4 linked regions of the Homo sapiens genome follow. The protein of the gene in region 1 purifies or fractionates together with the protein of each later gene. This does not show direct contact. Each region holds a gene or a part of one and is shown in the gene's direction. Other genes may lie near its edges.

What was found.
Region 2: the proteins of TRMT61B (region 1) and DBT purify together in Homo sapiens (co-immunoprecipitation; 3 studies listed by BioGRID and IntAct, with this or other methods). This does not show direct contact.
Region 3: the proteins of TRMT61B (region 1) and NDUFAF5 purify together in Homo sapiens (co-immunoprecipitation; 3 studies listed by BioGRID and IntAct, with this or other methods). This does not show direct contact.
Region 4: the proteins of TRMT61B (region 1) and PPTC7 purify together in Homo sapiens (affinity purification with mass spectrometry; 3 studies listed by BioGRID and IntAct, with this or other methods). This does not show direct contact.

Annotation. Positions count from the first base shown.
Region 1 is NC_000002.12:28,867,307-28,874,894, reverse strand, and holds the start of TRMT61B (tRNA (adenine(58)-N(1))-methyltransferase, mitochondrial precursor), read left to right. Parts: upstream 1-4,585; 5' UTR 4,586-4,617; coding exon 4,618-5,316; exon of another isoform or gene 5,317-5,335; intron 5,336-7,588.
Region 2 is NC_000001.11:100,239,828-100,246,849, reverse strand, and holds part of DBT (lipoamide acyltransferase component of branched-chain alpha-keto acid dehydrogenase complex, mitochondrial isoform 1 precursor), read left to right. Parts: intron 1-2,247; exon of another isoform or gene 2,248-2,307; intron 2,308-5,965; coding exon 5,966-6,089; intron 6,090-7,022. UniProt on the Homo sapiens protein: The branched-chain alpha-keto dehydrogenase complex catalyzes the overall conversion of alpha-keto acids to acyl-CoA and CO(2).
Region 3 is NC_000020.11:13,802,023-13,809,044, forward strand, and holds part of NDUFAF5 (arginine-hydroxylase NDUFAF5, mitochondrial), read left to right. Parts: intron 1-1,127; coding exon of another isoform or gene 1,128-1,310; exon of another isoform or gene 1,311-1,394; intron 1,395-6,819; coding exon 6,820-6,880; intron 6,881-7,022. UniProt on the Homo sapiens protein: Arginine hydroxylase that mediates hydroxylation of 'Arg-111' of NDUFS7 and is involved in the assembly of mitochondrial NADH:ubiquinone oxidoreductase complex (complex I, MT-ND1) at early stages. May also have methyltransferase activity.
Region 4 is NC_000012.12:110,580,316-110,588,218, reverse strand, and holds the start of PPTC7 (protein phosphatase PTC7 homolog), read left to right. Parts: upstream 1-4,900; 5' UTR 4,901-5,187; coding exon 5,188-5,410; intron 5,411-7,903. UniProt on the Homo sapiens protein: Protein phosphatase that plays an essential role in mitochondrial metabolism and biogenesis. Positively regulates biosynthesis of the ubiquinone, coenzyme Q. Dephosphorylates the ubiquinone biosynthesis protein COQ7 which is likely to lead to its activation.

The DNA of each region.
Region 1 (7,588 bases):
GCCTATAATTCCAGCATTTTGGGAGGCTGAGGAGGGAGGATTGCTTGAGGCTAGGAATTGAGACTGCCCTGGTCAACATAGTAAGACCCTGCATCTACAAAAAATTTTTTTTAAATTATGGCCAACCGCGTGGCTCACACCTGTAATCCCAGCACTTTGGAAGGCCAAGGCAGGTGGATCACTTGAGGTCAGGAGTTTAAGACCAGCCTGCCAACATGGTGAAACCCCGTCTCTACTAAAAATAGAAAAATTAGCCAGGGGTGGTGGCATGAGCTTGTAATCCCAGTTACTCGGGAGGCTGAGGCAGGAGGATCACTTGAACCCGGGAGGCAGACCTTGTAGTGAGTCAAGAGAATGCTACTGCAGTCCAGCCTGGGTGATGGGAGTGAAACCCTGTAAAACAAAACAAAACAAAACAAAACAAAACAAAACAAACAAACAAACAAAACAAAAAAACAAAAAAAAACAAAAAACATTGGCTCACGCATGTATTCCTAGCACTTTGGGAGGCTGAGGCAGGTGGATCACCTGAAGTCAGGAGTTCGAGACCAGCCTGGCCAACATGGTAAAACCCCATCTCTACTAAAAATACAAAAATTTGCTGGGCATGGTGGTGGGTGCCTGTAATCCCAGCTACTTGGGAGGCTGAGGCAGGAGAATCGCTTGAACCCAGAATGGGGAGGTTGCAGTGAGCTGAGATTGCGCCATTGCACTCCAGCCTGGGCGACAAGAGCAAGACTCTGTCTTTAAAAAAAAAAAAAAAATTGCCATGCATTGGTGGCACATGCCTGTAGTCCCAGCTACGCTGGAAGCTGAATCAGGGCAATTGCTTGAGCCCAGGAGTTCGATGCTGCAGTAGGCTATGATGGCACCACTGCACTCCACCCTGGGTGACAGAGCAAGACCCTATTTCTAAAATAAAAACAAAAACAGGCAGGACCCACTGGGAGCAGAAGTGAAAGGCACTACTCTAGGTCTTTTGGGATTGGTACAAAGCCACCATTCCAGTGGTACTGTGAGGTTGATAGCTGGAGGACAAGGGAAAACTACACAAAATAGAGTGAAGAAGCATGTGCAAAGAGCTGGAGGAGATCACCTGTGGAACTAGAACTGGTTGCCTGTTTGGAGATTTTAAAATGCCAGCCATCAGCCATGGTATTTATTGAGAACTATTCAGATTTTAAAGTAAATGCTTAACTAAATGTCACTAGAAAACAGTATTTTTCTTAGCCTTATAATGTAAACATGGGCTGGGCGCGGTAGCTTACGCCTGTAATCCCAGCATTTTGGGAGGCCGAGGTGGGTGGATCACCTGAGGTCAAGAGTTCAAGACCAGCCTGGCCAACATGGTGAAACACAGTCTCTACTAAAAATACAAAAAATTAGCCAGGCGTGGTGGCACAGGCCTGTAATCCTAGCTACTCAGGAGGCTGAGGCAGGAGAATCACCTGAACCCAGGAGGCAGAGGTTGCAGTGAGCTGAGATCGTGCTATTGTACTCCAGACTGGGTGACAAGAGCAAAGTTCCGTCTCAGTAAATAAATTAAGTAAGTAAACATGATAAGTTGACGATGTATCACAAATTCATCATCAAGATAATAGTTTCAGAGTGCAGGCTGACAATTTCATAGGGAAAGCAGAAGTAAAGGATAGCCAGAAATAGAAAGGCCCACATAGTGACTTCTTTTTTAAGAATTTCAATGCTCTGAAAGATCATGAATAAATAATATTATTTTCCAAAATGTACTAATGTATTTCATTAGATGTGTATAAAACAAAATACGTATAACATTGTGGCTGTTATTTAAACAATGGAAAGAAAGTGATGCCATTTTCCATTTACAATTTGTTTTAAAAATCAAAGATATGTAAATTTACTTCCCATATTTTGTTAGTGTATTTTCTTTTTTTCCAATTCCTGCTTATTCTGAAATAACAGCCAAGTATCATTTGATAATACTCAAGAAATAATAAAGTAGGTATGATAACTTTTAAAACCACCATAGGGCTTAGAGTTCAGGAGGTTCCGGCTCAGACCCATGTTTGGCAATGATAATCTCCTTAATTTCAAGAATTTTATAACCAAAAATGAGTTTTTGTCTTAGAAAGCCTATCACAAGAAAAAGTAGTGAGAAAAGCCTACGACTCCAGAAACTATTGGTCATAACTTTTCCTAAAAAGCAAACTACACAAAGTGAGACACGCAGTTGGGGTGTGGAGAGAGCAGTTTCTTTATTCATTTTTAGAATTAGAAGGGAGAAATTTGGCTGGGTGCAGTGGCTCATGGCTGTAATTCCAGCTCTTTGGGAGACTGAGGTGGGTGGATCACCTGAGGTCAAGAGTTCAAACCAGCGTGGCCAACATGGCGAAACCCCGTCTCTACTAAAAATACAAAAATTAGCTGGGTATGGTGGTGCACACCTGTAATCCCAGCTATCTGGGAGGCTGAGGCAGGAGAATTGCTTGAACCTGGGAGGCAGACATTGCAGTGAGCCGAGATCATACAACTGCACTCCAGCCTGGGCGAGAGTGAGACTCTGTCTCACAAAGAAAAAAAAAGGAAAAAAAGAAGGGAGAAATCCTGTTGATGGAGTTTATGGTGGCTGATGTCCTAGAAAGTACTGATTAGAAAGTATTAATTTATGTCTTAGAAAGTAATAACGGCCAGGCGCGGTGGCTCATGCCTGTAATCCCAGCACTTTGGGAGGCCGAGGCGGGTGGATCATGAGGTCAGGAGTTCGAGACCAGCCTGGCCAACATGGTGAAACCGAGTCTCTACTAAAAATACAAAAATTAGCCTGGCATGGTGGCAGGTGCCTGTAACCCCAGCTACTCGGGAGGCTGAGGCAGGAGAATCGCTTGAACCCAGGAGGCAGAGGTTGCAGTGAGCCAAGATCGTGTCATTGCACTCCAGCCTGGGCAACAAGAGCAAGACTCTGTCTCAAATAAAAAAAAAAAAAAAGAATAACAAGATTTATTTCATCAAATTTAAACAGAATTCACATTGACTTCACAGCCCTTTGAATATACTTGGACTTTAAGTTCAACTGTGCTGTTGACCAGTCTTTCCAAACGGTGTTACAGTACAAAGAGCATGGGCTGCTGAACCAGACTGACTAAATAGGAAACTCTGCAATGCCACTTGTCAGCTATGCATCTTGACCAACTTATTATTATTATGTTGCACGTGGGTCTTGAAATCCTGGGCTCAAGCAATCCTCTGGCCTGGGTCTCCCAAAGTGTTGGGGTTACAGGTGTGAGCCACCACTCCTGGTTTCCCCAAATTATTTAATCTCCCTGGGCCAGTTCTTTTACTCATAAAATGGATTTGTTTCTAACACAGAATTGTTGGAAACTTAAATGAGTGTCTAACGTGCCTCGTATTGCCAGACTCTCAATAAACTTTTGCCCAGTCAACTAATATCCAGCAAAGAGGCTAGCGATTTTTCTTTTTTTTTTGAGACAGAGTTTTGCTGTGTCGCGCAGGCTGGAGTGCAGTGGTAGCTCGATCTTGGCCCGCTGCAACCTCCGCCTCCTGGGTTCAAGCTATTCTCATGCCTCAGCCTCCCTTGTAGCTGGTATTACAGGCGTGCACCATCGCGCCCGACTAATTTTTTTCCCCCGAGAGGAGTTTTGCTCAGTCGCCCAGGCTGGAGTGCAGTGCCGAGATCTCAGCTCACTGCAACGTCTGCCTCCCGGGTTCAAGCGCTTCTCCTGCCTCAGCCTCCCGAGTAGCTGGGATTACAGGTGCGTGCCTCCACGCCCAGCTAATTTTTGTATTTTTAGTAGAGACGGGGTTTCACCACATTTGCCAGGCTGGTCCCGAACTCCTGACCTCAAATGAGCCGCTTGCCTCGGTCGGCTTCCCAAAATGCTGGGAGGCTAGTGATATTTAACGCTAAATAACTCTGGCCTCCAAAGATACCTGTTTCCATTTTAAGACACTTCTATTTCGTTTTGGGAGGGTAAACTAGTTATATTTTAATAATGAAAACATGTGTTACATAAGCACATAGTGAGTACTCGAATCAACCTCGGACTCTCCGGGCGTGAGGGGTGGGTGAGGGGACCGGCAGGTGGTCACAGCCCCATCAAAAGGGAGTTGGGGCTGGGGGATGTCGCGGTCAACTGGGAAAGGAGAGCCAATCAGCAAGTGGCGCGTCCCACGCCGTCTGTCAAATGCATCTGGGGGTTAGCTGTACTCATACATCTTGTGGGTGACTAGGTGACTTCCGTGTTCAAGACACAAGCGAGCTAAGCCTGGGATTTCAGTTTGCACAGCGCTTTGTTAAGTTTTGTCTCTCAATCTTGCTGTCCAAGAGCGAACCTGGAGGTCGTCTGTTAGCGGTAAATTCTTTACCCACATTCCGAAAAGGAAAACGGCGGCCGCGCGCGAGGACATATTCCTTGGATGGTCACTCAACCAGGACTCCGCTGCTCCCGCGCCCTAGCTTGACCTAGCGCACCGCCCCCTCCCCGACGCAGGCGCAGTCGCGGAGCTGTAGAGCCCCACGCAGCTGCAGAGCCATCGGGCTGCTGCGCCATGCGCGCGACTGGGAAAGAAGGGGTCGCGCTAGGCTTGCGTCACTCGTCTGCGACGGCGCCTTCGCGAAACACTATGCTAATGGCATGGTGCCGCGGTCCTGTCTTGCTGTGCCTGCGGCAGGGGCTCGGAACCAATTCATTCCTGCACGGCCTGGGGCAGGAGCCCTTCGAGGGAGCTCGGTCACTGTGTTGCAGGTCCTCGCCTAGAGACCTGCGAGATGGAGAAAGAGAGCACGAGGCGGCACAAAGGAAAGCCCCAGGAGCAGAGTCTTGCCCATCTCTCCCTCTGAGCATCTCGGACATTGGGACTGGATGTCTTTCGTCACTGGAAAACCTCAGACTGCCGACGCTGCGGGAAGAGTCATCCCCTCGAGAGCTCGAGGACTCGAGCGGAGACCAGGGCCGGTGCGGTCCCACACACCAGGGATCCGAGGATCCTTCGATGCTCTCGCAGGCCCAGTCCGCTACCGAGGTCGAAGAGCGTCACGTCTCCCCTTCTTGTTCAACTTCCAGAGAGAGACCCTTTCAGGCTGGGGAACTGATTTTAGCTGAGACTGGGGAGGGAGAAACAAAATTTAAGAAATTATTTAGGTTGAACAACTTCGGACTCTTAAATAGTAACTGGGGGGCAGTCCCGTTCGGCAAGATCGTGGGGAAGTTCCCCGGCCAGATACTGAGGAGTTCCTTCGGTAAGCAGTACATGCTGAGGAGGCCAGCCTTGGAAGACTATGTAGTATTGATGAAAAGAGGGACTGCCATAACATTCCCAAAGGTAATGCGATGGAGATAAGGTGTGTATTGGTTTCAGGAGGGGCAAAGACAGATGCAGTACTCAGTCCTGATTAATGTATTCAAAGACATCTCAGAACGTTTGGATTTTTTATTGTACTCAGGCTTTTAAAATAAACCAATGGTTATAACTTTTACATATCATGATGAAAATTAGCATTAGGGAACGGCTAGATTTTAATTTTAACTTAGGAGTCTCGAGTCCCTTATTTGTAAAATGTGGATAATAGCTCAACTTTCTGTTAGGGTGATGTGAACTCACTACGTACATAATAAGTACTAATTTTGTTCCCCATTACTCTTAAGTTTATAACTTCAGGACTCAAGAGAATGTTGAACTCTTAGGGAACAATTTTTTAGTACTACTATGATGATATTTTAATATTCAATAATCATGTTACAAGAGTATATTAACAATAGGTACATTACGGTGCTTTTCCCCTTTTAGGGAAGAAATAGAGTTTTATATTACAATAGCTAACATTCAACACCAAACATAAAATGACTATTCTTTATTAAAAAGTTAACTGCCTAAAGCCTAGTTTCAGTCTTTTTTTTAAGACAAGTTCTCACTCTGTCATCCAGGCTGGAGTGCAGTGTTGCGATCTTGGCTCCCTGCAACCTCTGCCTCCCGGGTTCAAGCGATTCTCCCACCACAGCCTCCTGAGTACCTGGGACTACAGGCATGCACCACCACCCCGGGCTAATTTTTGTAGAGACGGGGTTTCGCCTTATTGCCCAGGCTGGTCTTCAACTCGTGGCCTCAAGTGATCCGCCCACCTCGGCCTCCCAGTGCTGGGATTACAGGCGGGAGCCACCGCGCCCAGCCCTAGTTTGAAGCTTATGCTAATCATCTATTGCTAGCAGATTATTTCAATCCTTAGTCACAGTCCTTGAGTAGAATGTTCCTGTGTAACACAACTCCTCCTCCTTTCTCCAGATCAGGATTCATTCGTTATTTATTCAGCAAATTGACTGCCTTCCATACTCAAGGCACTGTTTAGGGAAGTATAGTGTTGAACTGCAGTCCTCACCCTCAACATAGACCTTACATTCTAGAAGGGGTGACAAAGAACAAACAAGTAAATGAAAGAATAAGGTCATTTCCAGTAGTGTTAAGTGTCATGAAGACAAATATATTAACAATGACATTGTTTTGGGTGACCTGGGGTATGAGCATACTTTATGTCAGGTGAGGAGAGATGGTCTCCAAGGAGGTACACTTGATAGGAAACCTAAATAAGGAAGAGCTTGCCTTGTAAACAGATCTAGGAAGAGAATTGTTCTTGCAAAGGGAGGAATGCTGCAGAGTTTCTGTTGTGGCCTCAATGGGTCAGATGAGGGACCCCGTATGAGGTGTGGTTTGAGTATTTTATTCCATTTGTAGTGAAGGACCATTAGAAGGTTCTTAGTAGGAATCCAGTCTGTATTTTAAACGGTCTACCCAGGGACTAAAAAAACTTTCCTCAGAAACTTAGGCTACTGAGGTATAATAAGCTTTTTTTGTTTAAAGACAAGGTCTTGCTATGTCACCCAGGCTAGAGTGCAGTGGCTCAATCACCTCTTACTGTAGCCTGAACCTCCCAGGCTCCAACAATCCTCGCACCTCAACCTCCTGAGTAGCTGGGACCACAGGTGCATGCCACTATGCCTAGCTAATCAAAAATTTTTTTTGTAGAGTTGGGGTCGCCCTAACTTGCCCAGACTGGTCTCAAACTTCTCTAGGCTCAAGGGATCCTCCCTTGAGGGTGCTGGGATTACAGGTGAGAACGACCGCTCCTGGCCATGGTATCATAAGCTCTTGAAGAAAACTAAAAGACTTTCGTAATTTTATCTTGCTTCCCCGTGTCTCCTTTCTCCCCATTAGACAAAATCAGGAGAGATTAGTTACATTTCATGAAGTTATAAATATGCATATTTAGTATACTTTCTGCCTTTCCATTTGTTACAGATAAAAGTCACATTGTTCCACTCTAAGGAGGAATTTAAGTACTAAATTTGTTAGGTGTTGACTTCTCTTTATAGCTTCCAAGTAATGGCTGGAGATAGTTTTACTTCAACTTCTACAACTTTGAAATGCTTGAGGGAATACCTTCACTGATGTTTAAAAACTGATCTCCCTGTTAGAATTACATAATTCCATCTTAGTATTAAAAATATGACCAGAGGCAGAGTGCAGTGGCTCACACTTGTAATCTCAATATTTTGGGAGGCTGAGGCAGGAGGATCATTTGAGCCCAGAAGTTTGAGACCAG
Region 2 (7,022 bases), on another chromosome or scaffold:
CCCTTAACACACTCTATTTCCTTCATTATAGCACGTGTTATAATCACCGGTTTACTTGTCTTTACCTTTCACTGTACTGTGCATTCTATAAGGGAAGAAATTGCATCTGTTTTGTTCTCTGTATAATCCCAAGTGCCTGGCACATTGTAGGTGTGCATAAATATTTTTTAAATGACTCAGTAAAAAAAAAAGTCAGGTTTGTAAACTCTTCTAAAAAGTTGTAAGCAAAAACAGTTCTTACCCCCGTAGTAAATTATTAAAATAGCCTTATAATGTTGTGTTTTACATTTCCCTAGGACATAATGCATTTGACTCTTGATTAATCATGCCATTTGGAATTTTTCTGTTGTGTCTGTCTTCCTGTAGTAAAGTGTAAGCAATTTGAATTCAGGAACTATATATTGCATCTTATTTAGCTTTGCATTTCCAAGTCCAGTACAATGTCTGACTTTAGGAGTGCTCAACAGCTGCCTATTGAATTATTATTAAATATTTCCTTAATACGCTACTTTGGTGAACAGTTTCATTTCCCTTTATGTTCTTCTGTCCTGGTTGTGATATTGAATTATTAATTTTTTATTTTTATTTTTTTTGAGACGGCGTCTCACTCTGTCACCAGGCTGGAGTGCAGTGGTGCAATCTCAGCTCACTGCAACCTCCGCCTCCCGGGTTCAAGCGATTCTCCTGCCTCAGCCTCCCAAGTAACTGGGCAGGCACGCGCCACCATGCCCAGCTAATTTTTGTATTTTTAATAGAGACGGGGTTTCGCTGTGTTGGCCAGGATGGTCTTGATCTCTTGACCTCGTGATCCACCTGCCTCAGTCTCCCAAAGTGCTGGGATTACAGGCATGAGCCACTGCACCTGGCCTAATTTTTTATTTTATTTATTATTATTTTTGAGACAAGTTCTTGCTCTGTTGCCCAGGCTGGAGTGTGGTGGCATGATCTTGGCTCACTGCAGTCTTGACCTCCTGGGCTCAAGTGGTCCTCCTTCCTCAGCCTCCCAAGTAGCTGGGACTACAGGCATTCACCACCACAGCCAACTAATTATTTTGATTTTTAGTAGACAAAGTCTCAATGCATTGCCCAGTATGGTCTTGAACTCCTGGGCTCCAGTGATCCTTCTGCTTTGGACTCCCAAAATGTTGGGATTACAGGCATGAGTCACTGCACCTGGCTGAATTATTTTTAAAATCAAGGAAAGACCTATTTTAGTCAAATAATTGCATTAAGACTTAGACTACACGTATAGTTGTTCAACCAGGATGTATTTGAGAATGAAAATGGTGTTATTAATAATTGCCTTGAATCACTAGAGGTGAATTGGGTGTCACCTCAGGCAAATTGGTACAGATGGTCCCCATAGAACTAGGTGTCTTTAGTATTGTTCATAGATGAATTTAGAATTGCTTCAAATATAAAATATATAAAACTGATAATTCCATAAGCATGCCTTTTTAAAATTGGAGGTTTAAAGCCTTATGCTTAATTTACTAGTCTAGCTGGGTGTGGTGGCTCACACCTGTAATCCTAGCATTCTGGGAGACTGAGACAGGAGGATTGCTTCAGCCCAGGAGTTTAAGACCATCCTGGGCAAAAAAGTGAGACCCTGTCTTTATTTTATTATTATTATTATTATTTGAGATGGGATTACAGGTGTGAGCCACTGCACCCAGCCAACCCTGTCTTTGAAGAAAATTAAAAAATATAATTTACTAGTCTAATAGTCTGTTTCTAGAAAAAAAATTTAGAATTCTAGCTTGAAAAATTATTTCTTCTCCTCTTTCCTGTTGCCTGTTAATCCATCTATTCAGCAACTTCACAGTGTTTTTAGCCTTCTCCTCAGAGCCATTCAATTACTATTATATTAATCATATACTGCCTATGGTACTTTTGTTGCTTTTTTTCTTTTTCTACTATTAATTACCTCAGTCAGGAGCCTGTTGCTTTGTGTCTCAAATACTATACAGTACTCTCCCCTTCTTATCTGTGGTCTCAGTTAGCCATGATCTACTGTAGTCTGAAAATAGGTGAGCACAGTACAGTAAGATATTTTGAGAGAGAGACCACATTCACAAAACCTTTATTACAGTATATTATTATAATTTTTCTATTTTATTATCAGTTATTATTATTACTGTCTTACTGTGTCTGATTTATAAATTAAACTTTATCATAGGTATGTATATATAGGAAAAACACGGTATATGTAGAATATGTAGGATTCAGTACTGTCCATGGTTTTAGGCACCCACCGGGGGATCTTGAACGTGTCCACTGCACATAAGGAGATAAGAGAGGAATACGGTAATAGTTATTTTTTTAAAAAAATCCTTTTTTGATAATTTTGGTATGTAATAGTTTCTTGACTTCTCCCTTTCTCTCCAGATTTTATCTGTTATAATCTATTCAATAAACCACTACTAATTTCCTAATCCTTTTTCTTCAATAACCCATAATGTATGAGTTCAAACTCCTTATACTGACATTATAGTCATCAACCATTTCCTCCTTGAGCTGTTTCCATTGCTCTCTTTTATACCTTTGGTCAAGCCAAATCAAGCCGCTCAATGTCCCAGCAGATATGCTAAGTCAATTTCTGCTGTAGTTTATTTATGCTGTTTCCTCTGCCTTAAAAGTGCCCTTCTGCTCTTTTATTATGTATGCTTATTATGCACAGTGCAGCTTAAATCTTCCTCCAAGAAGCCTTCCCAGGTCACACTAACGTGAAAAAAAAGCCCACCAGACCCCTCTACTTAAACTCCTTTTTTTTTTTTTTTTTTTTTGAGATAGAATTTTGCTCTTGTTGCCTAGGCTGGAGTGCAATGAGATTACAGCTATGAACCACTGTGCCCGGCCTGCTTAAACTCCTTTATCACGTACTGCCTATGTCTCTTTTTTTTTTTTTTCGTAAACCTATGGACTATATTAAAGAAGCCTATGCCTCTTATTACAAAAAGTTAGAGCATGCATGTCCATGCTTGAGTGTGTTTGTATGTGTGTTTATTTTCTCACATACGTTGTAAACTCTTTGAAATTAGGGATTATTTCTCCTATTTCTAGGGTCTTTGACATCAAATTTATTTAGCTTCAGAGCTCGATTGTTCCACTTATTTGCTGTGTGACCTTGGACAAATTACTTCACCTTTCCCATCAGTTTCCCGTGTGTTGAAGAGGGCTAACGTGTATGTTCCACAGGGAAATTGTAAATGTAAAGATGATGTCTGGGCCGGGCACCATGGCTCATGGCCTGTAATCCTAGTACTTTGAGAGGCCAAGGTGGGCGGATTGCCTGAGCTGAGGAGGTCGAGAGCACCCTGGGCAACATAATGAAACCCCGTCTCTACTAAAATACACACAAAAAAAGTTTAGCTGGACATGATGGCACATGCCTGTAGTCCCAGCTACTTGGGAGGCTGAGGCACGAGAATCGCATGAACCTGGGAGGCGGAGGTTGCAGTAAGCTGAGATCGTGCCACTGCACTCCAGCCTGGGTGACAGAGTGAAACTCCATCTCAAAAAAAAAAGAAAAAAAGATGATGTCTAAAAAGGCTATTTTTCTTTTTTTCTTTCTTTTTTTTTTTTTTTTGGAGACAAGGTCTCTCTGTCACCTAGGCTGAAGTGCAGTGGTGTGATCTTGGCTCATTGCAACCTCCGCCTCCCAGGTTCAAGTGATTCTTGTGCCTCAGCCTCCCAAGTAGCTGGGACTACGTGTGCCACCATGTCCAGCTGATTTTTGTATTTTTAGTAGAGAGGGGGTCTCGTCATGTTGACCAGGCTGGTCTCAAACTCTTGACCTCAAGCAATCCACTCACCTCAGCCTCCCAAAGTGATGGGATTACAGGCCAGAGCCACCATGCCTGGCCTGTCTGAAAAGAAAGTACTCAGCACATGGGAGGCACTCAATAAATGTTAAGCGTGGTGGTTTATGCTGCCCCGACCCATGAATAGTTCAATACGAGTTGTGTTGTTGTTGAAGGTAAGACCTTCTAGTAGTTTAATTTTCTTTCAAATGTTTTACAAATATGAACAATTTTATTTAAATTAAGGTGAATCTATATACTTCAAAACTTTCCTTTATTGTCCCTAAGTTTTATGTCTGATGAAACAGAGGTTGATTCACTCCTTTGATTTTATTGTTGACCAAGAGTCAGGATTATGGGAGCTGAAGGAGAAAGCAAGGACAAACAAAATGGAAATGTTTGGGAAAGAGAATTCTTTTATTGTCTTCTGGTTTTAAGTTATCAATTTTAATTATTTTAGTTAGGCTTTATATTTCCTGAATATTAATGTTAGTAAAAATAAAATGTTGATATTATAAAGACTAGTCGATTTAGGGTGATCTCTAAAGTTAAGATGAATGATTTAAGATTATTTATGTTTTAGGAAAGGGATCTTCAGTTTTTCTTTGCCTTCAGAAATCAGTAATAGTTTGAAATTTAAAGTAAAAAAATAAGAATTTAAATGTATTGTTCTTGTCAGTAAACCAAACTTTTACTTTTATATTTGCTATCAGAAAAAAACAAAAATTCTAGTTTATAAATATGTATTAAAACATGACTGTACTATATGATGTTTATTATAACATAGCCTTTAAAAGTTAAGAGCTAATCACCACTAATGTACATGATTTTTTTTTTTAAGTAAAAGTGACTCTGTTACATACATGAAAAAGTTTCACTTATCAGTATTCTTATACTAAGAAGGTTAGAAATTTCTGCAGAGAAGTAAGCTCAGGGCTTTAAAATTAAATAAGTAAATAAATTCTGTAGTTTATGTTTACAGTATGATGTAGTTAAGTATTAATAGCATTGAAATTTTTTTTTTTTTGAGATGGAGTCTTGCTCTGTCACCAGGCTGGAGTGCAGTGGCTCGATCCCGGCTCACTGCAACCTCTGCCTCCCGCATTCAAGCGATTCTCCTGCCTCAGCCTCCCAAGTAGCTGGGACTACAGGCGCATGCCACCAAGCCCAGCTAATTCTTTTGTATTGTTAGTAGAGACAGGGTTTCACCATATCGGCCAGGCTGGTCTCTTTAACTCCCTACCTCGTGATCTGCCCACCTTGGCCTCCCAAAGTGCTGGGATTACAGGCGTGAGCCACCGCGCCTGGCCTAATGGCATTGAAATATTAACTTTCCAAATAAGATATTATGGCCTGGCATGGTGGCTCGCACCTGTAATTCTAGCACTTTGGGAGGCTGAGGTGGGAGGATTGCTTGAGCTCAGGACTTCAAGTCCAGCCTGGGCAACATACTGAGACCTTGTCTCTACAAATAATAAACAAAATTAATTGGGTGGGGTAGCATGCGCCTGTGGTCCCAGATACTTGGAAGGCTGAGGCAGGAGGACCCCTTGAGCCTAGAAGGTCAAGGCTTCAGTGAACTGTGATCGCACCACTGCACTCCAGCCTGGGCAACAGAGTGAGACCATGTCTCAAATACACACACACACACACACACACACACACACACACACACACACAATACCTTTCAGACACTTAGGTTTTGATATATAGAGTTGAATACATTTGGGCCTACTTATTTCTATAAGAGATTTTAAAATAATATTATACTAAGGTACTATGTAAAATAGTTAATTCTAAAGAGTCATCTATAAGTTACTATAAGTAAACTTTGGGGTATCATACTATACAAGTTTTTCATTGTTTTTAGATGCTAACTATTACTTTAGAATTCTTTAGTAGTTTTAGTTCAGGAAGTCCAATGACTTAAGCATACCTATAAGCTGATGTATTTATACAGAATACACTGTTAAAATGTCTTTACTTTCAGAAGGAATTTTGGGTAAGGATCATAAATGTAACAAATCTAAATCTAAGGATATAATATTTCTATTGTGACAATGGTTCTACTTTTAGAATGGAATTGAAATTCAATTTATACTTAGAGATAAGCCGGTATGGTTGTTTATAAATGCTTTTACTTTTTGTTTTCTCATCTGTAGATTTGTGTTCGCTATTTTCAAACATGTGGTAATGTTCATGTTTTGAAGCCAAATTATGTGTGTTTCTTTGGTTATCCTTCATTCAAGTATAGTCATCCACATCACTTCCTGAAAACAACTGCTGGTAAGTATGATTTCAAAATAACGTGTATAAAATAATGTTTTGTACCTCATTCAGTAATATTTTTTAGTAGTTGATTGAGACTTTTTAAACAAAAAAAAGTTGACTCTGTATTTCTAGCCGGGCCCTTCCCATCTCCCCACATTTTTCCAGTTCTCACTTTCTTTTTTCTCATCCCTCTCTTTTACATACTTTCCTTAACACTGGCACCCCTTTTTAAAAAAAATTTTTTTTTAGAGACAGGATCTCACTCAGTTGCCCAGATTGGAGTGCAGTGGTGTAATCACAGCTCACTATAACCTGAACTCCTGGGCTCAAGTGATCCTTCTGCCTCAGCTTCTCAAAGAGCTGGGATTACAGGCATTAACTTATCTCGCCCAGCACTTGTGTCTTTATAATATTGGGAATGGGTTGTGTTGGGCCATCTATTTATCATCTGGCTCATCTAAGTGCAATAGTCAGCATTGATATGACTTTCTCAGTCAAGGTAAATTGTTGACTTAATAGAGGTGTCTTTGTGTTGGCATACACATTGTGGTATTGTTTGTTGAAAGAAGCACTTAATCTGTCAAGTGAACATGGTGTGATGAAACCAGCCTGATTTAGTACTAAATAGAAAGTTCCCTGACTTTCACCATTTACTTACTTTTTCCCCAGCTTTTTCTACCCTCTGTAAAGAACTTGAAGGATTAAGTATTAGATTTGGCAAGGGCACAAGAACTGTTTTTTTTCCTGATGTTCTATTTAGAACCCTGATAAAGAACCCTAGACTTTTGTTACACTATTAAGTTTTTGACAGATACATGGGAGCTTAGTTTGTGCTGGGAATGAAAAATGGGGGAATTCCAGGCAGACCCCAAGTCAGCCTTTCCATGCTCTTTTTTTTTTTTTTTTTTTTTTTTTTTTTTTTTTGAGCTCTGTTGCTCAGGCTGGAGT
Region 3 (7,022 bases), on another chromosome or scaffold:
TAGGAAGAAAAGGGGATAAGTAGGGGAACCTGTAATATTACCACCAATAACTACCCCCAAACAGTGCCATATGAAGCAGAAATGAGAGAATGTGTGTTCTCAAGGCCTAGGGTGAGATCAAGGCTAAAGAAGGTAGGACAGGGTGCTGTACTCCATTAGGGCTAGAGAAATCTCGAAAGAAGACCCATGGGCAATCAGTGAGTAATAAGCATGAAGTCAGCATGGTACGGTGACGGGGTAGGACAGTAGGACTTTGTTCTCCGACAGGAGTAACTTGGATCCTTACCCTATTTCTTTACTAGATAGGGAAATTTGAGTAACTTACCTTTTTGAGCATTTATTTCTTTTAAAAATGCAAATGTGTGGCTGGGTGCGGTGGCTCACGCCTGTAATCCCAGCACTTTGGGAGGCCGAGGCAAGTGGATCATCTGAGATCAGGAGTTTGAAACCAACTTGGCCAACGTAGTGAAACCCCGTCTCTACTAAAAATACAAAAAATCAGCGAATTGTGGTGATGCATGCCTGTAATCCCAGCTACTCTGGAGGCTGAGGCAGGAGAATTGCTTGAACCCGGGAGGCGGAGGTTGCAGTGAGCTGAGATCACGCCATTGCACTCCAGCCTGGGCAACAAGAGTGAAATTCCCGTCTCAAAAAAAAAAAAAAAAAAAGCAAATGTTACTCACCTCACCCTTTAAAGAGATAAAGGGTGTGAAGTACCAGGACCATGGTAGATGCTCAGCTTACATTAGCTCCTGCCTTCCTCTTTCCCCATCACTCTACTCCCAGCATTTTTCTAGAACTAGGCTTCCAAGAGACAGCCATCTGGAGAGAATGATTGCCCTCTTCTTCCTCCCTCCACTAACAGTCTTTCTAAAGGATGTCATTACTCTCTTCAGAGATCAGTCCAGTAGACTTAATATGAATTTCCAAACCCCTCAGGCCTAGAAACATCCCTAAACCTGATTAGTGGAAATAGGAATTTCTTGATGAAGAAAGCATCTTGCTACATAATTAGAGATGATAAGCTTAAACGCTAAAATAGCTGTTTGGCATGATTTTGTGTGAATATATTCATGAAATCAACCAACCAAAAATAGATTGTGTCATATCCTTCCTTGTTTTTATAGAAGCAAGGGGCATGGGCAAGCAGGGCCCCTGATGTTGGAAAGGAGCCTCCAGGGAGGGAAGAATTAACAGGCTGGAGGACTAGGCTGGGAACTGAAGAGAACCCCGGAGGCTTCACACCTGTGACTAGTGTTGATCTTTTGTTAACTTTTAAATGGCCTGAGTCCATAGAAACTGCATCCTGAGAGGTTGCTCGGCTAGAAAGCGGAAAACCGCTTCACATGAGTGCTCTACTTTGTAATGAAAATAAACACTATTAATACAGGCAATTGTACACTGAAGGATCATTGTATTTATATTTGTAATTGTATAAGTAACACAAATATATTTTGGTTGTAACTATTAAGCTATACAGATAAAGCGAAAGTCTGTCATTCCCCCTTAATCCTAAAAATGCTTAGCTCTCTCTTGAGAGTAAGAGTTCTCAAAATTTTGGTCTCAGGACCCCACTACACACTGAAAAGTAATGAAGAAACTTTTAAAGGGCTTTTTGTATAGTGAATTAACATCTGTCAGTATTCACTATATTAGACATTAAAACTGAATTTGTTTTCGTATTCATTTAAAGCTAACAATAATATACCTATTACTTGTTAACATAAATGACCCTTTTTAATAAAAAATAACTATATTTTCTTTTAATTTTTTTTTTGGGGGGGGGACAGTTTCACTCTGCCACCCAGGCTGAAGTGCAATGGCACGGTCTTGGCCCACCACAATCTCTCCCTCCCAGGTTCAAGTGATTCCCCTGCCTCAGCCTCCCGAGCAGCTGGGATTACAGGCACGTGCCACCACGCCCCATTAATTTTTGTATTTTTAGTAGAGATGGGGTTTCACCATGTTGGCCAGTCTGGTCTCGAACTCTTGACCTCAAGTGATCCGCCCACCTCAGCCTCCCAAAGTGCTGGGATTACAGGCATGAGCCGCTGCGTCTGGCCATATTTTCTAAAACAAAAATAATTGAAAGGGAAGAATGACATTGCTTCACATTTTTGCCAGTTAATGTGCACCTTAGTAACAGAGCTAGATTCTCATGTCTGTTTCTGCATTCAAGTTTCTTGTTACACCATGTGTCATGTCATGTCTCCTCTAAAATAACCCATCGTAGAATAAGAGGTAAAAAGCCAAATAGTATCTTGGTATTATTATGAAAATAATTTTGACTTTGTGGACCCCCAAAAAAGTCCTAGGGACCCCAGGACTCTCCAAACCACACTTGGAGAACTACTGTCCTAGAGGTAGCTACTATTATCACTTTAGTGTGTAACCTTCCAGACTTTTTTTTTTTTAACAAGGACTACTTTATATAGACAGTCATATGTATTCACACATTTCTGAAACTTTTTTTATTAACAGTATATGTATTTCCAATATACTGTTAATAGTTTTCTAAATTGGTATGGATATATTTGCACTCCTTAATTTCCGCATATTATTTCCTAGTATGAATGTACCACAGTTTTACTTAACTATTTACCTGTGAATGACCTTTAGGTTTGTTCTGATTTTTTGCCAATAGTAGCAATGCTGCAGTGAATATCCTTCTATACAAATTCATTTATGTATTCAGTCTTGCAACAAACATTTACTGAGTACCTTCTGTGTGTCTGGTACTATCCTAGGTACTTCAAATATAGCAGTGAACAAAACAGAAATCCCTGCGTGGTGTTTTTGGGTTTATAGCAGGCCTGTTGGTAAACTTTAGACCGTTCAATAATACTGGGATGTTGTACACAAAATTTGTGGTGGTGGTGTTCATAAATGGAGGAAAGTACCCATGGTTTTCATCAGATCTTGAGAGAGCTAATATAACTAAAAATAGATTAGGAACCAGTGATTTAAAGCCTTTTTGATAATATTTATTTTACTTATAATATGGAAAAAATTTCCTTTACAGTCTACCCTCTTGAGAATCGTCTCCTATATTGCTGTGTCACCAACCTATCATTGAGATGAAAAAAGAATCTCCGGGAATGTAAAGCCTCTAAAAAGTATAGGAGGTGTAGGGCTGGGATGGTGTGGCGATGTGTAGTGCACATTTTCATGAGGTGATGTTAAAAAATTTATACGAGGTCATACAGGTTAGTCAGCAATATTACAGGACTCAAAAGTTATTGCCCATTACGAAAAAAATGGGATTTCTGCTAATCACCAGAAGAAAGTTAAATTATGTGAACTACACATGGTTTTCTGTGGTTATAAAGAATGAGTTTTAGAAAGATTTCTACTAAAAATGTTTAACCTGATGTTAAAATGTTTAAAAGCCTACATTTCTATTAATTGGGAAATATAATTCAGAATACTATCCATATTCTCTAAAAATGAGCCTAATGACTCATACTTTAATATAATATAAAAATATTGGTGTAGAATCTTCTTTAGTTTATACAATTAGAAAGTTGCTGATTTAATAAGAAAGTTATGAGAATGTCTTCTTGAATCATTACATTTATCCTGTGAGGCATGTATACAGTTTTGTTTCTGAGGTGCTGTATTAATATTGCGTCCTGGCCAGGCACAGTTGTTCACTCCCATAATCTCAGCACTTTGGGAGGCCTAGGTCAGAGAATCACTTCAGCCTGGGATTTCAAGACCAGCCTGGGCAACATAGGGAGTCCTCATCTCTAAAAAAAAATTTTTTTAAATAGCTGGGCCTGCCTGTAGTCCCAGCTACTCGGGAGGCTGAGTTGGAAGGATTGAGCCTGGGACGTTGAGGCTGCAGTGAGCCATGATCTCACCACTGCACTCCAGCCTGTGTGACAGAGCAAGATCCTGTCTCCAAAAAAAATAATAATAATATGTGTTCTAATTCATTTTCTAAAAATTCCCATCCAAAAAAGCTTTTGTATAATCAGCTATACAGGTTTATGTTGCATACATTAGATATATTACTTTTACGCTACAATGGATTTTTATTTTTAAAGTGAAATCGAGTCAGATTAGTATCATATAGATGTATTTACATCTTAATGTATTTTCATCTTAATGAATTATTTTCAGAGAATGAGCATTCTAAGTAAAGCTGATTTCCGTTTTAGAACTGAACTACCAGACTAGTACTTTAAGAGAATGGTGCAAGGCCTGGCACGGTGGCTCACGCCTCTAATCCTAACACTTTGGGAGGCCAAGGCAGGCAGATCACAAGGTCAGGAGATCAAGACCATCTTGACTAACACAGTGAAACCCCGTCTCTGCTGAAAATACAAAAAAATTAGCTGGGCGTGGTGGCACATGGCCTGTAGTCCCAGCTACTTGGGAGGCTGAGGCAGTAGAATAGCTTGAACCTGGGAGGCGGAGGTTGCAGTGAGCCGAGATCGCACCACTGCACTCCAGCCTGGGCGCTGGGTGGCAAAGTGAGACTCCGTCTCAAAAATAAAATAAAAAAAATGGTGCAGATATGGTCCCCTTTTAATTTAAATAAGGCCTTCAACAAAGCTGTTGTGGCATTCTTTTGATTGAAGTGGAGATAGTGCTTTTAGTTGGTTGCACTGAAGAATTGTTTTCAAAGGATATTGCTTAATGGCTAGATAACAGCCTGGAAAGAATTTTGTTTTTAATCTTAGGATCTCCTCTTAAAAACAGCTTGTTAATATGGAAAAGTATATGGATGATGAATGTTCATGGTCTCACTACCTAGAGGTCTCATTAAAAAGCATACACAACCTGATACACGTATATGTTTTTTTAAAGAAGAGTAAGGTATATATAGAGAGAGTGATACAGTGGGGTGTAAAGTGAAACGAAGTCTCCTCTTCCTGACTTCTCCCTCTGTTGCCCAGGCTAGAGTGCAGTGGCGAGATCTCCGCTTACTGCAACCTCTGCCTCCCAGGTTCAAGGGATTCTCATGCCTCTGCCTCCCAAATAGCTGGGACCAAGGGCATGTGCCATCACACCCAGCAATTTTTTTTTTTTTTTTTGAGATGGAGTCTTGCTCTTTCACCCAGGTTGGAGTGCCGTGGCGTGATCTCGGCTCACTGCAACCTCTGCCTCCCGGGTTCAAGCGATTATGCTGCCTCAGGCTCCCAAGTAGCTGGGACTACAGGCACCAACCACCATGCCTGGCTAATTTTTTGTATTTTTAGTAGAGATGGGGTTTCACCATGTTAGCCAGAATGGTCTCGATCTCCTGACCTCATGATCTGCCTGCCTCGGCCTCCCAAAGTGCTGGGATTACAGGCATGAGCCATCGTGCCTGTCCCTCCTCCTGACTTCTCAAACCCTGGTCCCTTTCCCCAAAGATTTGTTAGCTGTGTCTTAGACATCGTTTCAGATCCACTTTTTTTTATAGACCCATAGAATACACTTATGTCATTTAAACTTACTTATATAATATTACATGCACTCTTTTGCTTTTTTTTTTCCAGTCAATAACATGTCTTGGAGATTTTTTTCCTATAGACATGTATCTACCTTATTTTTTGAGAACTGTACAGTATTTTATAGAATACATATTCTTTAATTTGTTTAACCAGTCCTCTATTAATGATGTTTAGATTTATTTTAGGCTAGTTTCCAGCCAGGCGCCATGGCCCACACTTGGAATCCCAGCACTTTGGGAGGCTGAGGCTGGTGGATCACAAGGTTAGGAGATCGAGACCAGCCTGGCTAACACGGTGAAAGCCCGTCTCTACTAAAAATACAAAAAAAAAAAATTAGCTGGGCACGGTGGCAGGCGCCTGTAATCCCAGCTACTCGGGAGGCTGAGGCACAAGAATCGCTTGAGTTCAGGAGGCAGAGGCTGCAACGAGCAGAGATCACACCACTGCATTCCAGCCTGGGCAACACAGCAAGAATCCGTCTTAAAAAAAAAAAAAATTATTTTAGGCTAGTTTCCAATAAGAATAAACCCCTACTTTTAGTGCCTAACACAATAAAGTTTTATCACATCACAGCTGCGTGCTGGTGGGACAGCCCATCTCCATCTTGTAGCTGTGCCATCTGGCCCTGTGTTCTATAATCTGGCCCTGTGTTCTATAAGATCACCACAGCAAAAGAGATGGCCTGGAAAAGGCTCTAGCTCTTAACTGTCTTGCCCCTCCTTTCTTTGGCCAAAAGAAATATGTGTTTGAGATTGGGAAGTGTCAAGGAGCACCTGGATATTTGGGGAGCATCAGTGGTCTCTGCCACTGTACCAACAGTTAAGTCCTGTATCAGGCTTCAAAAAGAAGAGGAAGTCATTACCCAATTGTTCATTTGAGAAACAAACTCCACATGTATCAGCAATGTGCTCATTTCCTAAACAAGCCTATTGGCTGCATTACTAGATATAGAATGAAATATTTTGATTCTAGGTGCCCCATTTTAAGAAAGATTGATATTGACACTGTCCAGGGACATGTAGTCAGAACATGTAAGGATCTCCAGATTTTTGTGTCCTGAAGGTTTTCAAAGACTTGGAGGAGAGGGCAATGGTTTGTAGGGTACAGAATACTCTTATTCTGTGTGGTTCCCAAAGAGAGAACTAGAACCAATGATGGAGTTTTAGGATGATTTCTCTCACAATGCAGGATATTTAATCAGCAATTAGAGACTTTCATAAATCAAACATAAGCCAGATGACATCTATGAAGAATATTGTAAATATTTTTTGCTTAGCATGGGAGATTGGTCTGGGTAGTCTCTGCGGCCTCTTTTTTAAATCTGGAATTTTGTATCATGAATGTCAAATGAATATTTCTTTTTCTTTTTAAATAGGACACTGATGAAATTCAAGTTAACTATCCTGGAATGTTTGAATTGATGGAAGATTTACAAGGTAAGGCACTTTAAAGAATTTTTAGACTCCATTGGGAAAGGTAGGCCAAAAAAAAAGAATTTTTAGACTCCATTTGAGAGAAACATTTTGAGAGCCAGCTCTTTGGCAGGCACTGGGCAAAGCACTAGGGATCCATTGTTGA
Region 4 (7,903 bases), on another chromosome or scaffold:
ACATAATATTCATCCCCCCACCCCGTTTTTTGAGACAGGGTCTCACTTGTGCTGCCTAAGCTGAAGTGCAGTGGCACGATCACAGTTCACTGCAGTCTTGACCTCCCATGCTCAAGCAATCCTCCCACCTCAGCCTCTCAAGTAGCTGGGACTGTAGATGTGCACCAGTATACTCAGCCAAATTTTTTTTTTAGATGGAATCTCGCTTTGTCGCCAGGCTGGAGTGCCGTGGCGCAATCTTGGCTCACTGCAACCTCTGATTCCCTGGTTCAAGTGATTCTCCTGCCTCAGCCTCCCTAGTAGCTGGGATTACAGGCACGGGCCACCATGCTTAGCTAATTTTTTCTGTATTTTTTAGTAGAGACGGGTTTTCACCATGTTGGCCAGGATGGTCTCGATCTCCTGATCTCGTGATCTGCCCGCCTCAGCCTCCCAAAGTGCTGGGATTACAGGAATTTTTTGATTTTTTATTGAGAAGAGGTCTCACTATGTTGCCCAGGCTGGTCTTGAACTCCTGGACTCGAGCAATCCTCCTGCCCCGGCCTCCCAAAGTGCTGGGATTACAGGCATGAGCCACCATGCCCGGCCATATTCACCTTTTTAAAGTGTATAGTTCAGCGATTATTCATATATTTATAAACTTGTGCAACCATTGCCACTATCTACTTCCAGAATATTTTCACCACTCCAAATAGAAACCCTGTACCCATGAGCAGTCACTCCCCATTTGTCCCTTCCCCAAGTCCCTGGCAACCACTAATCTACTTTCTGTCTCTATGGATTTGCCTATTCTGGACATTTCATATAAATGGAATCATACAGTATGTGGTATTTTGTGTCTGACTCCTTAAAATACTGCTTTTGTTTGTTTTAGAAATGGGGTCTCACTACATTGTCCAGGGTGGAGTGCAGTAGCAATTCACAGGCTCCATCCTGACACTCTATAACCTTAGCCTCCCAGGTAACTGGGACTACAGGCACTTGCCAGCTTGCCCAGCTCTTAGCCTCACCATTTTTTTTTTTGAGACAGGGTCTCACTCTGTCACCTAGACTGGAGTGCAGTGGCATGATCTTGGCTCACCGCAACCTCCGCCTCCCAGGCTCAAGTGATTCTCTTGCCTCAGCCTCCCGAGTAGCTGGGATTACAGGTGCACGCCACTACCGCCCGGCTAATTTTTGTATTTTTAGTAGAGATGGGGTTTCACCATGTTGGCCAGGCTGGTCTGGAACCCCTGACCTCAAGTGATCCACCCGCCTTGGCCTCCCTAAGTGCTTGGATTACAGGCGTGAGCCACTGCACCTGGCCCAGCCCCACCATTTATTATTATTCGTTTTTCAGATCCTAAGGTTGCATTGCTCTTCTCCAATCACATTCTGCATTCATTGAATATCCTTTTCCTCCTCTTGAGCTGGTTATGCCGCATGACAGACAGAGAGACTTGTCTGTCCGTTCAGGCCTCTCACAAATGTCATGTCTTTGTGAAGTGCCCCAGGTGTTCTCTAACCCCAGAGGGTCTCATTTCCCCTTCCCAGACCCCTCCTTTATTTCAGCTTGTGGTGCTTATTATTATTTTATTTATTTACTTTGAGCCAGAGCCTTGCTCTGTTGCCCCAGCTGGAGTGCAGTGGCGTGATCTTGGCCTATTGCAACCTCTACTTCCCGGGTTCAAGTGATTCTCCTGCCTTAGCCTCCCAACTAGCTGGGATCACAGGCGTGCACCACCATTCCCAGCTAATTTTTGTATTTTTAGTAGACCCAGGGTTTCGCCATGTTGGCCAGGCTGGTCTCGAACTTCTGACCTCAAGTGATCCACCCCCCACTCGGCCTCCCAAAGTGCTGGGATTACAGGCATTAGCCACCGCACCCAGTCTGTTATTATTATTTTAATACATTTACTTAATTTTAACCTTCCTACTGCACTGTGACTGCCACAAAATCACTGATTTTTTTTATCCTTAGCCTAGAGACTTGAACATAATAAGTGCTCAACAAATATTTGCTCATTTGCATGGCATTGCCGTAATACAGTGGCTCTAAATCAGGGAGCAATTTTGCCCCCCAGGGGACATTTGGCAATATCTGGAGACAGTTTTGGTTGTCCTGGGGGCACAGAGGTGGCATGCTTCTGGCTTCTAGTGGGTAGAGGCCAGGGATGCTGCTAAGCCCCCTCCAACGCATGCACAGGACAGCCCTAACAGCAAAGAATCATCCTGCCCAAAATGTCAATAGTGTCAAGCTTGAGACACCTTGCTGTAAGCTAATTAGTGCTCATTGTGAATAGGTTAGCAAAAAGGAACCCAAAGAGATCAACCTACCAGTCTGGCAGAAAATCTCACTAGGAAATGTCATGCCTTCTTTTTGTTGTTGTTGTTTGTTTGGTTTTTTTAGGAGCGGAGGCTGACTTTAGTGCAAAGCTCTTTCCTAATGTCATAGAGGTGCCCTGGGAGCCCAGATGGTATTTTCACCACACTTGTTCACCTTTAAGAGTGGCAACTGACCTCTCAGGAATCCCTGAAGTGCTAGGAATGTAACTCTGTTAAGGAAGAAAATCCAGGCCTTTTTAAGTCCAACAAAATGTCAAACGTGAATTGTGTTCCTGGGAGAAGGAACGGGAAGGGAGGTGTTTTGTAAAGTACCCTCTCCTGGCTTCCCCCATGGTGATGAAACTTCAGAGCTGGCTCTGGAATAAATGATTCAAGAGAACCCGAGGCCCTATCTCCTGTTCCTTTAAAACTTGCAAAGGAGCTTTGAGAAGGATTCTGTTCGCCACGTGCTTCTGTGGGCAACTCATTTGCAGGAAACTCACTTGCAGGAAATTCATTTGCCGGAAACTCAAGGCACTGGTATCACTTAATCATGAAAACAGCAGCCCCATCGGAGCAGAAGTTACTGGCTTTAGAGTCACATTTTAGGTTCCTACTCATCCCATCAAACCAGTTCTTGTGACTGACATGGAAATTAGGTAATATATGCCCTGAAAAGGAAAAGTAGGAGCAGTCTGAAGGAGTTTGACGAGGCAAGAAATAGGGTTGACATGCTATTTTAAAAAGTTTGTCCTTGGGGTAGAATTACCTGCCAGACTGACTGGGATCTGGTAGTGGTATGTGTACTTGAAAGAGCTACCTTTAGCACAGCTGGCAGCAATATAAATGCCAAGTAGAGGATTCCGAGAGGCACTACCCCCTCTTCTGGGCACTCTCCAATTCTTGTGCCATTAAAAAAAAGGAAGGTGTGAATGCATTATTGTCATTACTATACCATTTATCCAGTAAATGAACATTTTCTGGGTTCTGTATATTTGACAAAATGCCACTACGTGAAGTCATTTCTTCCGTCCAATTTTGATGAAAGCTCTTAAAGACAGAAACATATATATAGACAGTACTTGGCACACTGTGAACTGCAAAAGTGTTTAATGATGACAGTAATTAGGATAACGGAATAATATGTGTTGAGTTGATAGTTGGCAGCATTTTAAATATATTAAGAAAGCATAAAAAAGGACCATTTAAAAACGAGGTGGGAATCCCCAAAGTAACAATGGTCTTGTTAAAAGTGAACTAGAAAAAGACTGCTGTTTCTGAGAAATATATGTTTCAATCAAACTAAAAATTACTCTAAATTGAATTACTTGCCCCAAAGCTCATTTTCTGTTGTTTGTGAACCCCATTCACTCAATCATTCCTGTATTCAACAAACATGACTTTCTTTTATCATTTGTGTTCTTATTCCATTACTCCTTCCTTTTTTTTTTTTTGAGATGGAGTCCAGCTCTGTCTCCCAGGCTGGAATGCAGTGGCGCTGTCTCGGCTCACTGCAACCTCTGCCTCCCAGGTTCAAGCGATTCTCCTGTCTCAGCCTCCTGAGTAGCTGGCATTACAATCGTTTGTCACCAAGCCCAGCTAATTTTTTTTTGTATTTTCAGTAGAGACCATGTTGGCCAGGCTGGTGTTGAACTCCTGACCTCAAGTGATCTGCCCACCTCGGCCTTCCAAAGTGCTGGGATTACAGGTGTGAGCCACCACGCCCAGCCCATTATTCCTTCTTTTATTCCACAGACATTTACACACTCTCCTACTGTGTGCCAGGCATTGCTTTAGATTCTAATAATTGAGCAGCAAATGATCCTTGTCCTTGGGAAACTTAGAATCTAGTGAAATATTCATTCATTCTTTCATTCATTCACATATTTACTGGGTGCTCACGTGTTCTGGGGATACAGCAACAGAAAACACAGGACCCTCAGGTAAACGAATTACATTCCAAAGGGTAGAAGCGAAAGCAAGGGCAAAGGTCTTGAGACAGCTGTGAGCATGGCTAGAGGCCAGTTAGCAAAAGGGACATGACACCATCTGTGTCCCCTCCCACTCTGATAGGGACACATAACATTTTCTCAATTTTTCCTAAAAGACTACAAAAAGTCTCTTCTTTCCAAACAGTTTGCCGCCCTAAATCCTTCCAGTATATTACTTGGGGAGGTGTCACTAGATCTGTGTACCTCTGTTTCTCATTATGTGACTCCATTCTGGTTTCTTGCAGGTTTTTGTTTAAAGGAATGGTGGCGTTATTTATTTAAAACAGGCTTTAAAAGATACGGTTAAAACAGGGTAGAAAACCCTCACGTGGCCCACCTGCAATTCCTACTAACTTAACATAGGTCCCGCGTCTGAGGAATCCCCCTAGGTCCTAAATCTTTGGCAGCCAAGTCAAAAGTGACTACGACTCCGGGACTATAATTCCCAAGAGACACTGCGTCCGCACCCTCTGCGCATGTTCAACCTTGGTGACTGCATAAGGCAGCGAGCCCAAGGGGCTGGGCTTGGGCCTGAGCGGTGAATCGGGGCGGGGCTAGGGGCAGGGCCAGGGAGGGGGCGGTGCTGCCGGCACCGCCCGGAACACGCTAGTGGAGCGGAAGATGGCGGCGGCGGCGGCGGCCGCTGCAGCCGGGACTTCAGTTGGGCTGAGGCGGAGGAGCCGCCGCTTCTGACCTCGCTCTGGCTCCGGTGCGCGCGGCTGAGCGCGTGCGAGGCCCCGCGCGTCGGGCAGGGGCGGCGGCGGCCACTGCGCGCCGCCCTGAGGAGCGCCCCAGCGGCGGCGCGACTGCGGCTGAGGAGAGAGCCGGCTCCGGGCCTCCGCGTCCTCCTGCTCCCCCGGCCCCCCGCCTCCTCGGGGGGGCGGCGGCGGCGATGTTCTCGGTCCTCTCGTACGGGCGGCTGGTGGCCCGCGCCGTGCTCGGCGGCCTCTCGCAGACCGACCCCAGGGCCGGCGGCGGCGGCGGCGGCGACTACGGACTGGTGACGGCCGGCTGCGGCTTCGGGAAGGACTTCCGTAAGGGCCTCCTCAAGAAGGGCGCGTGCTACGGGGACGACGCGTGCTTCGTGGCCCGGCACCGTTCCGCGGACGTGCTCGGTGAGTCCCCGACCCGGTTCCCTTGCCCCAGCCTCGGATCCGCCTCCCGGGGACTCCCCGCGCGGGGCTTCCCCAGTTCCTCCCGGCGGCGAAAGGAGCCAGAGCGCTCACATGGAGGGAGCGCTTACTATGCGCCAGGCGCCGTGCCAAGCGCTCCGAGGCGCGTTTTCCGCTTGAACGACCCCCATTTTAGAGAGGAGGAAACTAAGGCGCACAGCGGTCAAGTCGTGTGCTCAAGGTCACAACCCGAGAGTGTGACCGGTCTGTCCGAGTCCAGAGCCACACTCTCGGTCTCACTCGGCCGTGCCAGCCCTGGGCGACCTCGTCCCCTCCCTGGGCGACACCTGCAGGCTCCTAACCTCGTTCTGGTTCCCTCTCCGCATGCCCCGGGGATCCCTGCCTCTTCGCGTGCTCCCGACACCACAGCCCGGCCCAGGCTGCGGGATCGCCGGCCGACAGGCAGTCGTGAGCCCCCAGACAGCCCGGCCGTATTCTTTCGCCGCCTGGATGGTAACCAAATCTTCACCCTTTTCGGAGTGTGGCGGTGGGGGCTGCTGGCTTGGCGAAAAAACCCTCACAGCGTTTTCTCCCAAATTGATCTTGTCCACTTGCGGTCACTTGGGGGTTGGCAGAGTCTCCTTGATCCAAAATAGAATGGTCGAGCCTACTTGTAGATTGCAGCCGGTAAAGCTCTGAGGATTGGTCACAGCCTTTTCAGGCCACAGGTGCTCCCTGAGGCCTATTCCAGTTATACCTTTTGGGGGTGGGAGACTACGGAGAGAGCTGGCAGAAAGGGCTAAATATAGTTCACAAGCAGTCAGAAACTTTACCATAATGTACGCCTTAGGAGATTTTGTGTATGCTATGGGATATTGTGCCGTTAAAACTCTTTGAATGAATAAAGCAATGCGCTCGCTTTGAAATTGAAGGACGTGTTGTCATTGAACTTGGGTTCAAATGTCACTTTGATTTCCCTTCCCAGGTGAGACTAAGTTTTTGGTTACTTTAAATTTCATATGCTGAGGCAGAGTTTGGCATTGGAACAAATGATTCTGTAACTTTTTTATGACAGTAATTATTTTTTAATCTGATCTCAGAATAATTGCCTAGTATCTTTGGTTCTACTACATGTAGTGTTTGTGAACATGGGACTGGAAAGGTTGTTCTCAGTTTAATTTATGAATGACCCCATTACCTGGGTTGAAGAAAAAGCATTTAATGTTTAGGCAACGCTATTGATATTAACATGAGAGGGAGACTTAGAAAGGTCCTGCAGCTTGCAGATTGAAATTGTACAAATCCACCCCGAAGTCAGCTGTCAGTGGCTGTCTTCCCTGATACATTTAGAAGTGCCTCACTCAATGAGCTTGTGACCTGTGCTGCGTTTTTTTTTTTCAGACGGAGTCTACCTCTGTCACTCAGGCTGGAGTGCAGTGGCGCAATCTTGGCTCACTGCAGCCTCCGCCTCCCCGGTTCAAGCGATTCTCCTGCTTCAGCCTCCCGAGTAGCTGGGATTATAGGCGCCCATCACCATGTCCAGCTAATTTTTGTATTTTTAGTAGAGATGGGGTTTCACTGTGTTGGCCAGGCCGGTCTCGAACTCCTGACCTCGTGATCGGCCTCGTGTTCGCCTCGGCCGCCCAAGGTGCTGGGATTACAAGTGTGAGCCTGGCCCCTGTGTTGCTTCTTAAAGTTGTGTTCATAACATAGGATAGGGGATAATGAGCCTCTAAGGTTCACCTCATAAATCTGTATGCTGGGCTGCGCGTGGTGGCTCACTCCTATAATCCCAGCACTTTGGGAGGCTGAGGCGGGTGGATCATGAGGTCAAGAGTTCAAGACCAGACTGACCAATATGGTGAAACCCAGTCTTTACTAAAAATACAAAAATTAGCCGGGCGTGATGGCGCATGCCTATAGTCCCAGCTACTCAACAGGCTGAGGCAGGAGAATCTCTTGAACCAGGGAGGTGGAGGCTTCAGTGAGCCAAGATCGTGCCACTGCACTCCAGACTGGGCGACAGTGCGAGACTCCGTCTCAAAAAAAAAATAAAATAAAAAATCTGTATGCGACTTTTGTGAAAGATCCGTGACTTGATTGATGATTTGGGGAGTATTTAAATGTATCAAATTCTATATGGAAGCTTGATTTTAAAATTTTGGAAGGCTAGACCGGGCGTGGTGGCTCACGCCTGTAATCCCAGCACTTTGGGAGGCGGAGGTGGGCGGATCACCTGAGGTTAGGAGTTCGAGACCAGCCTGGCCAACATGGCAAAACCCCGTCTCTACTAAAAAATACAAAAATTAGGCAGGTGTGGTGGCACACGCCTGTAGTCCCAGCTACTAGCGAGGCTGAGGCAGGAGAATTGCTTGAACCTGGGAGATGGAGGTTGCGGTGAGCCGAGATCACACCACTGCACTCCAGCCTGGGTAACAGAGCAAGACTCCGTCTCAAAAAAAATACAATAAAATTTTGGAAGGCTACCTTCTTAAT